4 linked regions of the Homo sapiens genome follow. The protein of the gene in region 3 purifies or fractionates together with the protein of the main gene of each other region. This does not show direct contact. Each region holds a gene or a part of one and is shown on either strand. Other genes may lie near its edges.

Region 1 (3,500 bases), on a different chromosome or scaffold from region 3:
CAGGTACTTTTGTATTTCTAGTAGAGACGGGGTTTCTCCATGCTGGTCTCGAACTGCCGACCTCAGGTGATCTGCCCACCTTGGCCTCCCAAAGTGTTGGGATTATAGGCGTGAGCCACCGTGCCCGGCACCTTTGTTTTAATGTGTGGATTTTTCTGGTGGAACACATGGTGTTTTGTCAGTCTTGCTGGGACTTTTAATCGCTATTCTATGGTTTTATACCAGTATCTCACGAGAATTAGAAATAACATTACATTTTCGGCCGGGTGTGGTAGCTTTTGCCTGTAATCCCAGCACTTTGGGAGGCCGAGGCGGGTGGATCACAAGGTCAGGAGATCGAGACCACCCTGGCTAACACGGTGAAACCTCATCTGTACTAAAAATAAAAAAATAAAAAAATTAGCTGGGCGTGGTGGCAGGCGCCTATAGTCCCAGCTACTTGGGAGGCTGAGGCAGGAGAATCACTTGAACCCTCAAGGCGGAGCTTGCAGTGAGCCAAGATTTCGTCCCTGCCCTCCAGCCTGGGCAACAGAGCAAGACTCCATCTCAAAAAAATAAATAAATAAAGGAAAGAACATTACATTTTCTCTTCCACTGTGGAATAAATACGAATCTTGAAAGCATGGATATATTTTTCCATTGCAAATAGCTTGGGTTGGAAATGACAAGCCCTATTTCTTATTCCATCCTTGTCAGGGTGGTAATAGGCCAGTGACTGAATCAATTACGTCAACTATTCTTAATTTTTTATGACAGTAAAAGTAAAATAGATGAAGATGTGGGTAAATGTAAGTTAGCATTTTACCATCTAAATTTCAGACATTATTGACTTTTCAGTATGGATAGTTTTATATTAGGTTACAACTATAAATGAATAGTACGTTATCTTTTGCTTAGAGTCCAAAAGAGGAGTTAAGGACCCAGTGACAACTGCAGTACAGTGTGGAGGACTGAGGGAGCAGATGCCATTCCAGAGGGGGGAAGGCCAAGAGCCATGAAAGCCATGAGAAGTCAAAGCATGTCTGTTTGCAAAATGGAAAATAGAAAGCAGTTTGATGGAGAGAGCTGGGAAGGTAACTGAGTTCAATTCTTGGAAGGACTTGCATGCCATTGTCATTTTTTTTTTCTGAGACGGAGTCTTGCTATGTCACCCAGGCTGGAATGCAGTGGCATGATCTCCACTCCCTGCAACCTCTGCCTCCTGGGTTCATGTGATTCTCCTGCCTCAGCCTCGTGAGTAGCTGAGCTTACAGGCTTGTGCCACCACACCCAGCTAATTTTTGTATTATTAATAGAGATGGGGTTTCACCATGTTGGCCAGTCTGGTCTTGGACTGACCCCAAATGATCTCCCCGCCTCGGCCTTCCAAAGCGCTGGGATTACAGGCGTGAACCACCGCGCCTGGCCATGTAAGTATTAATAGTTCGGCCTTTTTGTCAGTAAATTAGAAGATGAGGAACCACTGGAGGTTTTTAAAGGGAGGAGCAAAGTTGCTCAATTCTTTTTTTTTTTTTAGACAGTCTGGTTTTGTTATGCAGGCTAGAGGGCAGTAGTGCGATCTTGGCTCACTGCCCCCTATGCCTCCCAGGCTCAAGCCATCCTCCCACCTCATCCTCCTGTGTGACTGGGACCACAGGCACGAGCCACCATGCCCGGCTAATTTTTGTATTTTTTGTAGAGACAGAGGTCTTGCTTTGTTGCCCAGCTGGTCTTTAGCTCCTGAGCTCAAGCGATTCACCCGCCTTGGCCTCTCAAAGTGCTGGGATTACAGGCATGAGCTACCACGCCCGGCCAGAGTTGCCCAGTTCTATTTTAACAATGTTAAGCTAGGTTTTCTTATCTCCATGGGTTAAGGACCCACAGGAATCCAGTGGGTTCATTTTATTATGACCTTTATACTTCTTGGATGGAGTTGACCTGGGGAATTGTATTTTGGTTTTTAGAGTTCTTTGGGGTGGACTTTTCCTTCTCTAATACTTTATTACTGTATTACATTAAGCTGGTAGATTGTTTACATTAATTTAAGATTTCAGAGTAATAATTGTCAATAGTTATTGAGTAGATGTTTACTAAATCTCAGGTACTATGCCAAAAACTGTATGTACATTATTTTGTTTAATCCTCCAAGAGGCCTTCTGTAAGGGTATTAATCCCATTTCTGAGTTAAGGATCCTGCCTCAGGCCCCTCAGTTATTTGGAAGGTAAGTCTTGGACTCATTTTCTTTATGGAATAGTTCTACTAGCATTGCTATTGATTATACCCAATTGTGTTACTGATAGTAGAGTATTATATGTTGGGAGAGAATTATATTAATGATAGCAAACAAATGGACAACTGAAATGGTTCCATTTCCTCTTGTCTTCTTTAAACATAGGCAACTACAAGAGCATTTATAAATGGCTTCCTTAATGTTTTAAAATACTGTACAGCTGTAATTTATTCATTGGAAACATATATAATTAGTGTGCCTCCTGGACTTCAGTGGTCTATCCTCAGATAATTTCAAGTTTGTTACTATGGAACATCTATTAGAGTTCTTTTTCCCTTTTATTATCTTTACCTTTAGACATAAGTATGTAATACTGTAGGAGGATATATAGACCTAAGAGAGACAGATGTAAGACAGAAAAACAATTATAGCCACCAAGTTCATGTTAAATTTGAGCTGAACCAAAACTTTCCTTTGACTGGATTCAGGAATGTGTATGTGTTGTTGTTGTCATTGTTTTTTTTTTTTTTTTTGAGATGGAGTCTCATTCTGTCACCGAGGCTGGAGTGCAATGGCGCGATCTCAGCTCACTGCAGCCTCTGCCTCCTGGGTTCAAGCAATTCTCCTGCCTCAGCCTCCCGAGTAGCTGGGATTACAGGCACATGCCACTACGCCCAGCTAATTTTTGTATTTTTAGTACAGACAGGGTTTCACCATGTTAGTCAGGCTGGTCTCGAGCTCCTGACCTCAGGTAATCCACCTGCCTTGGCCTCCCAAAGTGCTAGAATTACAGGCGTGAGCCACTGTGCCCAGTGTGTATATGTTTTTAATGTAAGTGATTTTAACATTTTCCCGAGGCTTCCCTTTATCACACATGCAGTGCACTAAAGTACACAAATACTAAGTGTGTAGCTTGATGAGTTTTCAGAAAGTGGACAGTGTAGCCAATGCCCAGGAGCAGATGTTTTATCAGTTAACTAATACAAGAGCTACTGTGAATCAGTATTTAGAAAGGTAAGCTCTGGAGTCAACACTCTTTAGGGTGTGTTTTCCTTGCTCTGCCACTTAATTTTGTTAACTTTTTGTGCTTTCCTGTACTCAAAGGGTTGTTTTAGGAATTATAAGAAATTATATATATAAACTCTTAGCAGAATGCCTGGCTATTGGTATTTTTGTGGCTGCTTATGTTGTTGAAAAGGAGGTACTTCTGAGAATTGATTATGGATGTTTTGAGTTAATGGAGGGGAAGTCTTAAAACTTTTACTAAGCAGTTAGTATATGCTAGGCAAT
Region 2 (3,810 bases), on a different chromosome or scaffold from region 3:
TTCCATGTCCCACGTTCCATTCCCAAACCAAAAACTCCTGATAGGCAGGGGACAAAACACCAGGGTTTCTCAACCATGCTCTGACATTTTGTTTCTTTCTTTTCTTTCTTTCTTCTTCTTCTTCCTCTTCTTCTTCTTCTTCTTCTTCTTCTTCTTCTTCTTCTTCTTCTCCTCCTCCTCCTTCTTCTTTTTCTTCTTTTCTTTTTTTTTTTCTCCTATCTCCCTTTCCTGGTAAACACTGACATTTTGGACGGGATAATTCTTTGCTGTGGGGACTTTCCTGTGTGTTGTGGGATGTTTAGCAACATCTCTAGCCTCTACCCACCAGAGGCCAGTAGCACGTCCCCCCAGTTAAAACAATCCAAAACGACTCCAGATGTTGCAAAATGTCTACTGGGGTGCAAAATCACCCCCATCTGAGAAGCACTGTGCTACTCTGAGAGTCTCCCATCCTTCCTCTGCCCTCCCCAGTTGCAGACAGAGGCTAGGCAGGGGCAGAGGCCATGAACAGCAAGTTTTACTTAGGCCTGGCAGGATGGAGGCCTCTGAGGGAGGCCAGGATTTCAAACTGTTAACACGATGGAGGGAGGGCATGCCCGCGAACCCACTGATGTGATCTCACTCTAGTGGGGTGAGTTTTCCAGAACATGCATTCCCGGATTCCCCATCAGTCATAGGAGGGCCTGGAATAGCTTCTGGGGCAGATGCCCCCGCTTTCCCGGAACAGGCAGAAGGGGGTGTGGGTGTGGTGGGAGTGGCGTAGGGGATTCTTTCCTTCTGTAGATATTTTCCTGGCATTGTTGACAGCCATGTGATTGGTTGAGGGCTGGAGGGGAGGAACTTTCCAGCTGTGGGTGCCTGGGTTCCCGGGAGGCCATCTGACACTGGGATTGTGGGGGATCTGGGTTTTTGGGGATTTTCTTGTTTTTCATTATCTCACCAACCAGAAGCAGGGATGTCTGGGTTTTAGGGTCTGGAGACTGTCTTTGGAGCTGGGACTAAGGGGCTGACTGGTTCCCCTCCAAGGGATGTGGAAGTTGTGAGTGCATACCCCTTAGAGCTGGAGGCTGGGAGGTTTTCAGCGTCTTCACAAGCCACTTTTTGCTTGGAGGTGGTGGGACCTGAGGGAAGACGAGGGTGGGAAGCCTACGGGAGGGGCCTGGGAGGGACAGAGGGAGGGAGGATGGGTGGTGGAAGGCACTGGGCGGGGTAGGATTCCTGTCTTTATCCCAAAACTCACTCCACCAGGAGGCTCAGAACACCCAGAAGCAGGAAAGCTCCGAAGATGGAGAGGAGCAGAATCTTGGCTTCCCAAAGATCCTGACTTCCTGCAGGGAACCCAGGAGGCAGTGAATGATTCTGGGACCCACACGCACCGACTTGGGAGCCCAAGGGCTCAGGGATCTGGGCAAGGTGGGGCGGGGCCAAGATGGGCGTGAGGACCTGGGAAGCAGCGCTTTCGGGGCCAGCAGGACACCTCCGTCCCCTTGCAGGTGGAGCAGTTGTACAGCGTGGTGCTGCCCCCTGCAGGAGACAGCAGAGGCAACGCTGGGGAGGGGAGGCCGGGCCTCCACCCTGCCTGGTACCCAGCTTCCTCCTGCAGCTGCCAGGCCCTCCTCTGACACCCTGCAGGCCCCAGGTCCTTGCTACCCCTTTCCTTTCCTACTCACGGCAGGCGGGGGGACAGAGAGCTGAAATGAAAGACAAGGAAGGGGTGGGGGTGTGAATGGATGAGCTGCTCACCACACATTCCTTTGGTTAAGACCCTAGGCTCCCCTTGAGGCCCATCCCGCATCGGTACCTTCCCTGGTGTACTCAGGGAGCTTGGTCTTTCGAAGCCAACTCCAATATGAAGGGAGTGAGGAGACAGCCTCTTTGATTTCTGGGGAGGCAGACAGCAGCTCCGTTTCCCTGGGCCTCGACGGGGCCAGTTCCCCCTCTCTTCACGCAGCCCCTCCCTGATCAGCCCTCCTGTCTCTACCCCTCCACCCTTCCCTGCCCACCCCAACCCCTGTCACCCGTCCCTCTCCTTGGTATCCTCCCAAGCCCCTAGGTCACTCTTTCCCCTTGACCTCACCCATGACCCTCAGGACTCTGTGAGTCTTCTCTGTGACTTTGTTCATGGACACCTCATCTGTGGAGATGGGCAAGGACCAGCGATTCCCTCATCAGCCCAGGTTCTGGGGTCTCTCCTGACTTTCCCAGATATGGAGCTCTCTCAGAGGGAAAGGCCAGCATGTCCAGAAAGGGCCACAGATGGAGGGCACAGCTGGAAGGTCACATGCCACCCTCTGGGGGTAGGGGGGTGAGTGCTTGCTGGGCCCATCCCTGGATGTCTGGTCCTACCTAAGGCAAAGGCCGAGAAGTCTGGGGAGGCCCCACATTCCTTCTGCCTGGCCTCCATCTGGCTGCAGAGCCGAGCCAGGCGGCCTGACAAGTCGTGGGCTGGGAGGCGACAGAAGACACAAGCCTGGGCGGCTGCCAGGAAAACCCCGCCTAGTGCCAGCCTCCACATGAGGACCACTGGGGGATGGGGCGGCGCTGCCCCAGCTGAGCCGAGGAATGCTCTGCAGCCCTGGCTCCAGCCCTTGCCTGGAGGTTCTAGAATGTTCCAGAACAATGAACAATGGCACTGCCCATCCTCAGCTGGGGTAAAGCTGGGGCTCAAGGAACTGGGGTCCAGAAGGCATCTCCAGCAGGCGATGGGCAGAGAAAGCAGGGCTTCTGTTGTGAGGGGACAGCACCCCCAACCTGGCCCTCAACAGCCTTCACAAGTTTGTGGTTCCAAAAGCAGTTTTATTTTTCTTCTTGTAAATCATGACCAGTGAGAAATAATGTGTGCCCCACCCCCCACCAGTGAAGAAGCTGTGCGTGAGTATCCCACCCGCTCTGGGACCCAGAAATCCCATCCCTTCCCATCTCCTCCCCCACTGTCCCAAACTCTTCGTCTCCTCTCTCTGCCCTGGGCGGCCTTGGGCCTTCCCCAGCTATCTCCTAGCAACAGGTCCATGGTTGCCTCAGCAACCAAGAGTTCCATACAGGCCTCAGAGGCCCAGCTAAGCCCAGTGACTTCTCTTACCTCTCACCAGGAAGATCCCAGTGACTCAAACCCCAACAGGCCCCTCCTGGCTACGTGGTGATGCATATACATGCGTGCACATAAACACACACACACACACACACACACACACCCTGTGATTAAACTACTAATTGTCAACCACCTCACAGGTATACCACAGACACACCCTGTGCCAGAAGAGTCGCTAGGCAACCCCAAACAGGCCTGGACATGCGGACATCACAGACACTGTAGTCAGCAACACAGATATGAACCAGGATGCCAGGGACCTATACATCAGTCAGCCACACGGGCTGATATGCACGCACACATGAAGAAAGGCCAGGACCCACAGATACTACCCTCTTCCCCCTGGCCAGCCCTGCCATCAGTATGGGATTCTTCCAGATGAGGGATGCTCCAGCCCCATTGCCATGGGGACTGTCCTAGCTCCCATACATCAACCTAGGGTGGGTTGTGGCCTTTCTGCCTCCCTCAGTAGATGGCTTGGAACATAGCAAAGAACTCCTCTTCCGATGTTCCAGAGTGTTCTGGCCTCTCATTGGTCAGGCCAGGCCAGGCCACCCAGCTTCAGGAGTAGAAGCCATGGTCCAAGAGACCGCATTGGGAAAATGCAAAGTCCTCCCTTTTCCCCAGACCTCAATATCCTTCCAGGGTTTTGCTAGGTCTAGTCTGGGTAAAGAGATGTTCCCCCCTTTTCCAAGCCCTTAAACACTGAGCTCCAAATCAAG
Region 3 (3,500 bases):
AAAAAATAAATAAATAAAAATAAAATAAAATTAATAATCTAAGCTTCCACCTCAGGAAACTAGAAAAAGAGCAAATTAAATCCAAAGTAATCAGAAGAAAAGAAATAATAAAAACTAAAACAGAAATAAAACAATGAAACCAAAAGCTAGTTAGTTCAAAAGATAAACACAATCAATAAGCCTTGGACTAACTAAGATGAAAGAAGAGGAAACACAAATTCAGAAAAACAACAAATAAAAGAGAGGCTACCACTTTAGACCTACCTCATGGACAAAAATAGGATAATAAAGGGATACTACAAACAACTCTATGCCCACAAATTTGATAACTTAGATAAACAGACCAGTTCTTTCAAAGACATAATTTGCCAAAATTCACAAGAACAGGCCTATATCTATTGAAGAAATTGCATCAATAATAATTTTTCAAAACAGAAAGCACCAGGCCCAGAGGGTTCACTAATGAAGTCTACCAAGCACTTACAGAAGAAATTATACCAACTCTACATAGGATCTTTCAGAAGACAGAAGCAAAGGGAATGCTTCCTAACTCATGCTATGAAGTCAGCATCACCCTAATACCCAAAGCAGACGAAGTCTTGACAAGAAAAGCAAACTACAAACCAATAAATATCTCATGAGCATAGATGCAAAAAACCTCAACAAAATATTAGAAAATCATATGCAAAATGTATAAAAAGAATTATACACCACAATCAAGTGAGATTTATGCCAGGTAGGTAGGGCCGGTTCCACATTCAAAAATCAATTAATGTAATCCATCACTTCAACAGACTAGGCTGGGCACAATGGCTCATGCCTGTAATCCCAGCACTTTGGGAGGCCGAGGAGGGAGGGTGGATCACCTGAGGTCAGGAGTTCAAGACCAGCCTGATCAACACGGTGAAACTCCGTCTCTACTAAAAATACAAAATTAGCTGGGCATGCTGTTGCATGCCTGTAATCTCACCTACTTGGGAGGCTGAGGCAGGAGAATCACTTGAACCCGTAAGGTGGAGGTTGTAGTGAGCTGAGATGGCACCACTGCACTCCAGCCTGGGCAACAAGAGTAAAACTCCGTCTCAAAAAAAAAAAAAGAAACAGGCTAAAGAAGAAAGATCACATGATTGCATAATTAGATAAAGCAAAAGCATTTGACAAAATCCAACACCATTTATGGTAGAAACTCTCAGTAAACTAGAAATAGAGAGGAACTTCTTCAACTTGATAAAGAGTATCTGTAGTTAACATCATACTTAATGGTGAGAACATGAAAACATCTACTAAGATCAGGAACGAGGCAAGATTGTCCCTTTTCTTACCACTCCTTTTCAACATAGTACTGCAAGTCCTAACTAATGCAATAAAACAAACAAACAAAAAGGAAATAAAAGGTATGAAGACTGGGAAGAAAGAAAGAAAACTGTCTTAGTTCACAGATGACTTGACTCTCTATGTAGAAAAACCGAAAGAACCACAATGAAAAAAAACTCCTGGGACTAACAAACAATTATAGCAAGATTTCAGATTAATACAAAAGTTGATCACTTTCCTATATATCAGCGTCAAACATGAAATTAAGAACACAATTACTATATATATTAACACTGCAAAAAACGAAATAGGTATAAATCTAACAAAATATGTATAAGATCTATATGAGAAAAACCACAAAACTCTTGAAAGAAATCAAGGAAGAACTAAATAAATGAGGAGATATTCCATGTTCATGGGTAGGAAGACTCAATACTTGACCTAAAGATTTAACGCAATCTCAATGAAAATCCCAGCAAGTTATTCAAGGTGAATCAAAAGTTCATATGAGGAGAAAAAGACCCAGAATAGCCAACACAGTATTGAAGGAGGAGAACAAAATAGGAGGACTGACACTACCCAACTTCAAGAAAATAGAGCTAGAGTAATCAAACAGTGTGGTATGCGCAAACGAACAGACAAAGAGAAAGAGCCCAGAAACAGACCTACACAAATATAGTCAATTGATCTTTGACAAGCGGCAAAGGCAATACAATGCAAGAAATAGCGTTTTTAACAAATGGTGCTGGAACAACTGGAAACAAAAAAAAAAAAAGAAAAGAAGCAAGGAAGCAAGAAAGCAAGCAAGAAAAGAATCTAGACACATTCACACTTCACAAAAATTAACTCAAAATAGCTCACAGACCTAAATGCAAAAGTATAAAACACCTAGAAAATGACAGAGGATAAAATCTAGGTGACCGTAGGTTTGGTGTTAACTTTTTAGATAGGACACTAAAAGCAAGATCCATGAAAGAAAGAATTAGTAAGCTAGACTTCATCAAAAATGTCTGCTCTGCAAAAGACACTGTCAAGAGAATGAAAAGCAACCAAAAGAATGGAGCAAAATATTTGCAAAAAGCTTATCTGATAAAGGACCATTAGCCAAAATACACAAAGAACTCTTAAAACTCAACAATAAGAAAATGAACAACCTGACTGAAAAATAAGCCAAGACCTTCACAGCCAATTCACCAAAGAAGACATACAGATAGCAAATAAGCACATGAAAATATGCTCCACAACATGTGTAATCAGGGAAATGCAAATTCAAACAATAAGATACCACTGCACACCTAACAGAATGGCCAAAATCCAGAACACCAATAATACCAAATGCTGGTGAGGATGTGATGTGGAGCAACAGGAGCCTCATTCATTTCTGGTGGGAATGCAAAATAGCCACCTCAGAACAGTCTGGTTGTTTCTAACAAAACGAAACATCATACAATCTAGCAATCACACTCCTTGGTATTTACCCAAAGGAGTTTTCAAATCCTTTATGTTCACACAAAAGCCTGTCCACAAAAGTTTATAGCAGCTTTATTCATACTTGCCAAAACTTGGAAGCAATAAAGATGTCCTTCAGTAGATAAATGTATAAATGAACTGTGATATATCCAGACAATGGCACATTAGCCATGCTAAAAAGAAATGAGCTAGCAGGTCATGAAAAGACATGAAGGGCACTTAAATGCATATGACTACGTGAAAGAAGCCAATCTGAAAAGACTACACATGTATGATTCAACTATATGACATTCTGGAAAGGGCAAAACTATGGCGATAGTAAAAAGAAATGGTAGCCAGGGGTTAGGGAGGAGGGTGGAGGGAGGGGTGAACAGGTGTGAAGAGGTGAAGCACAGAAGATTTTGAGGGCAATAAATCTACTCTGTATAAGACTATAATGGTGGATACATGTTATACATTTGTCCAAGCCCACAGAATGTACCACACCAAGAGTGAACCCTACTGTAAACTATGGATGCTGGGTGATTATGATGTGTCAGCCTAAGTTCATCAATTGTAACAAATGTACTGCTCTGGTGGGTAATCGTGCCAATTGGGGAGGCTGTGTATGTGTGGGGGAAGTGGGTATATGGGATATCTTTGCACTTCCCTCTAAATTTTACCGTGAACTTAAAACTACCTTAAATTATAGTCTTGAATGAACGAATGAATGAATG
Region 4 (3,230 bases), on a different chromosome or scaffold from region 3:
TCACAGCAGTCAAGTGGTGGTATCACCATTTTCATATGTGAACAATGAAATGCATACTAAGGTCACCCTGCTAAATTGAGCTTAGAAGTATTTTATTTGGGAGGCTGAGGCAGGCGGATCACGAGGTCATAAGATCGAGACCATCCTGGCCAACATGGTGAAACCCCGTCTCTACTAAAAATACAAAAAATTAGCCGGCCGTGGTGGCATGTGCCTGTAGTCTCAGCTACTCGGGAGGCTGAGGCAGGAGAATAGATTGAACCCGGGAGGCGGAGGTTGCAGTGAACTGAGATCGCGCCACTGCACTCCAGCCTGGCGACAGTGAGACTCCATCTCAAAAAAAAAAAAAAAAAAAAAGTATTCTTACCAGGTTGTGGAAGTCAGAAATCCAAGATAAGAACTCTGCCTTAAAGAGTTACAACTCTGCCTTCAAGAGTTAGTGAGAGAACAATCCTATTGTTTTAAATTATTGATTCCAGACCATAAGGAACTGTGAAGGGCATTCATAGGATAAATAGCTCTGCTGAAGTCCAGAAAGGGTTTTAGCTTAGTGGTCAGGGAAAGCTCTGAGACTTTGAAGGATGAGTAAACCTAGACAGGAGGAAAGCATCGTAGATGGGGAAAAGAGCAGAGGACTGGAGGCAGGAATCCTCCTCTGAGTTTGGGAGGAAAGACAGCCATTGGACTAGAAATGAGGAAACACTTGAAACTATGGTAACTATGAGATGGGAACAAGAGGAGCTCACCTTCTTATGGACTGGGTATAGTTTTAGGGAAATTCATCTCAAAGCAAGGTCACTTATTGTTGGATTAGGCCACAAAATTAAATATTGCCTATCTTATTTGTGCAGAGCTTTTTTGAAAAACAGCTTTCTTTCAGAATCACTTTATTATAGGGAGGAGTCAGTATTTTTCTCCTCAAACTGAGCTATGGACATTAAAAGTATAGTCTGAATGAAGTATATAGAGTTATGACAGTTTCAGAACCCAGGTATTTTTCTTATAGTCCCAATAATTTGGGAAGGGCTCTTGATAATAACACTACTAAACATACAAAAAATTAGCCAGGTGTGGTGGCAGGTTCCTGTAATCCCAGCTACTCGGGAGGCTGAGGCAGGAGAATTGCTTGAACCCAGGAAGCGGAGCTTGCACTGAGCCGAGATTGCGCCACGCACACAAGCCTGGGTGACAAGAGCGAAACTCCATCTCAAAAAAAAAAAAAAAAAAAGAATCAAGACTGAAGCAAACCAGTAATCCTGTTTGTTTCTGTTTGCTTCACAGATAGTCACTGCCAATCCTTGGAACACAATTGCTCTTCTCTGTGGCGCCTTCTTGGCATTATTTAAAGCAGCAGAGTTTGCCAAACTGAGTATAAAATGGATGATCAAAATTAGAAAGAGATACCTTAAAAGAAGAGGTCAGGCAACGAGCCACATAAGCTGAAGTCACCTCGCGTTGTTTAGAGAACTGTCCACATCAATGGGAGCTGTCATCACTTCCACTTTGTAAACGGAGCTATCAACAATCCTGTACTCACTTGAAGAAATGGGGCCTTGCTGGGAGGAACAGCATGTAAAACTGGAACTTCTAACCCCGTCCCAAAAGAGGCGGTGTAGAGCCTAATAGAAGAGACTAATGGATAAACCTACAAGTTATTTAAATATTTAAATTATTAATAAACTTTTTAAAGAGCTGGCCAATGACTTTTGAATAGGGTTTGTAGAAGATGCCTTTCTTCCTGTTTGGTTCATTGTATTGTATTAGGTTAAGCTCTACTAGGGTAATGAAGGCTCTACTTTTCACTTTTTAAAAGTGGACAAAAGAGTGTGATTTTCTTTTTCCAAAAATTCCTGAGTATCAAGACGTGCAGGTCATGCTTTGGAGCCTATGCACTGTACACAAAGGCAAAACCCTATGACTTTGGCATCATCTGCCATTGATGTCCAGCCTCTGACATGCTCTTTGATTTGTTAAATGTTAAATGAGACTTTAAGGCTACTAGAAACTAGTAATTAAGTTTCTTAATGGACTGAGTAGCCACCTACTTGTCCGGCTAGAATGTTTGTTGATGTATGAGTTTAGATTAACACTCAAAAGCACTAGGACAGATGTACATAGAAGGTGCCTACTCATTGTATTTTGATGATTTCATTAACAGGTAAATAAAAGTTAATACAAAAGGAACGAGTGTGACAATATGAATATCTGCTCAATCATCGGGCACAATTACTTTCATTTGGTGACTTCCAAGGACAAAAAGGTAGTATGAGTCTGGACTCCCAAGATGGATCTGACTCCCAAGGTATGTTCTAACTGCTTCCAGGGAAGGGTTTGTTAGGCATGGCAACTGATGGCAGGTGTCCAGAAAGAGTGACCTGGTGTCCCCGAGGAAGCTGGGTTAACTCTTTACTGTGTCCACAAAACTACCCATCATATGAGGAAGGGGCATACGCAGTGTGACCCTCAAAAAGCTTTTAGCCTAGCCTTTGACAGAAATGAGTATGCATTAAAAAAAAGTCTATTTTTCACATTAAGGTTCTAAAAATTGTTTCCAGAGTTTTAAATTATTTATGTGCCTGTTGCTTCAAAGAGGACTTGGTAGCATTTCCTAAATTTTGTAATCTGGCTTCCGATAATCCAAAGGGAATAACTCAAATGTATGAATAGGCATTTTAAATGGGAAGAAACTGTTTTTTGGATGAATGATTAAAAGTGAACTGTATAAAGAAATATTCCCTGCCACTTTTCTGCTCCACAGAAGCATGAGAATTCAAGTTTTAGCCTAGGTCTCTTTATAAAATCTTATTTTATTGCAGGGCAAATGCAAAGCCAGGCATAAAAGCTTACATTAACAGTACTGATAAAAAGGGGAGTGAAAAAGGGGGGTGTGTTTTTTTAAAGCATGTCTGACAATATGTCACTTTCTCTTTTTTTTTTTTTCTTTTTTTTCTTTGGAGACAGAGTCTCACTCACTCTGTTGCCAGGCTGGAGTGCAGTGGCGCTATCTCGGCTCATTGCAACCTCTGCCTCCTGGGTTCAGGTGATTCTCCTGCCTCAGCCTCCCAAGTAGCTGGGATTACAAGCATGTGCCACCATGCCTGGCTAATTTTTGTATTTTTAGTAGAGACAGGGTTTCACCATATTGGCCAAGCTGGTCTGGAACTCCTGAGCTCAAGCAATCCACCCGCCTCAGCCCCCCAAAGTGCTGTGATTACAGGCGTGAGCCACTG

What was found.
Region 1: the proteins of KIDINS220 (region 3) and ACBD3 purify together in Homo sapiens (pull-down; one large-scale study listed by IntAct). This does not show direct contact.
Region 2: the proteins of KIDINS220 (region 3) and TMEM95 purify together in Homo sapiens (co-immunoprecipitation; one large-scale study listed by IntAct). This does not show direct contact.
Region 4: the proteins of KIDINS220 (region 3) and PACC1 purify together in Homo sapiens (co-immunoprecipitation; one large-scale study listed by IntAct). This does not show direct contact.

The regions. Positions count from the first base shown.
Region 1 is NC_000001.11:226,180,242-226,183,741, reverse strand, and holds part of ACBD3 (Golgi resident protein GCP60), read left to right. Parts: intron 1-3,500. UniProt on the Homo sapiens protein: Involved in the maintenance of Golgi structure by interacting with giantin, affecting protein transport between the endoplasmic reticulum and Golgi. Involved in hormone-induced steroid biosynthesis in testicular Leydig cells.
Region 2 is NC_000017.11:7,353,910-7,357,719, reverse strand, and holds TMEM95 (sperm-egg fusion protein TMEM95 isoform 3 precursor), read right to left. Parts: upstream 2,565-3,810; 5' UTR 2,516-2,564; coding exon 2,347-2,515; intron 2,135-2,346; coding exon 2,078-2,134; intron 1,883-2,077; coding exon 1,802-1,882; intron 1,692-1,801; coding exon 1,671-1,691; intron 1,549-1,670; coding exon of another isoform or gene 1,525-1,548; coding exon 1,444-1,524; intron 1,329-1,443; coding exon 1,241-1,328; intron 1,122-1,240; coding exon 1,088-1,121; coding exon of another isoform or gene 999-1,087; 3' UTR 885-998; coding exon of another isoform or gene 619-884; 3' UTR 501-618; downstream 1-500. UniProt on the Homo sapiens protein: Sperm protein required for fusion of sperm with the egg membrane during fertilization.
Region 3 is NC_000002.12:8,782,114-8,785,613, forward strand, and holds part of KIDINS220 (kinase D-interacting substrate of 220 kDa), read right to left. Parts: intron 1-3,500. UniProt on the Homo sapiens protein: Promotes a prolonged MAP-kinase signaling by neurotrophins through activation of a Rap1-dependent mechanism. Provides a docking site for the CRKL-C3G complex, resulting in Rap1-dependent sustained ERK activation.
Region 4 is NC_000001.11:212,363,428-212,366,657, reverse strand, and holds the end of PACC1 (proton-activated chloride channel), read left to right. Parts: intron 1-1,281; coding exon 1,282-1,443; 3' UTR 1,444-2,730; downstream 2,731-3,230. UniProt on the Homo sapiens protein: Chloride channel gated by pH that facilitates the entry of chloride ions into cells upon exposure to extracellular acidic pH. Involved in acidosis-induced cell death by mediating chloride influx and subsequent cell swelling.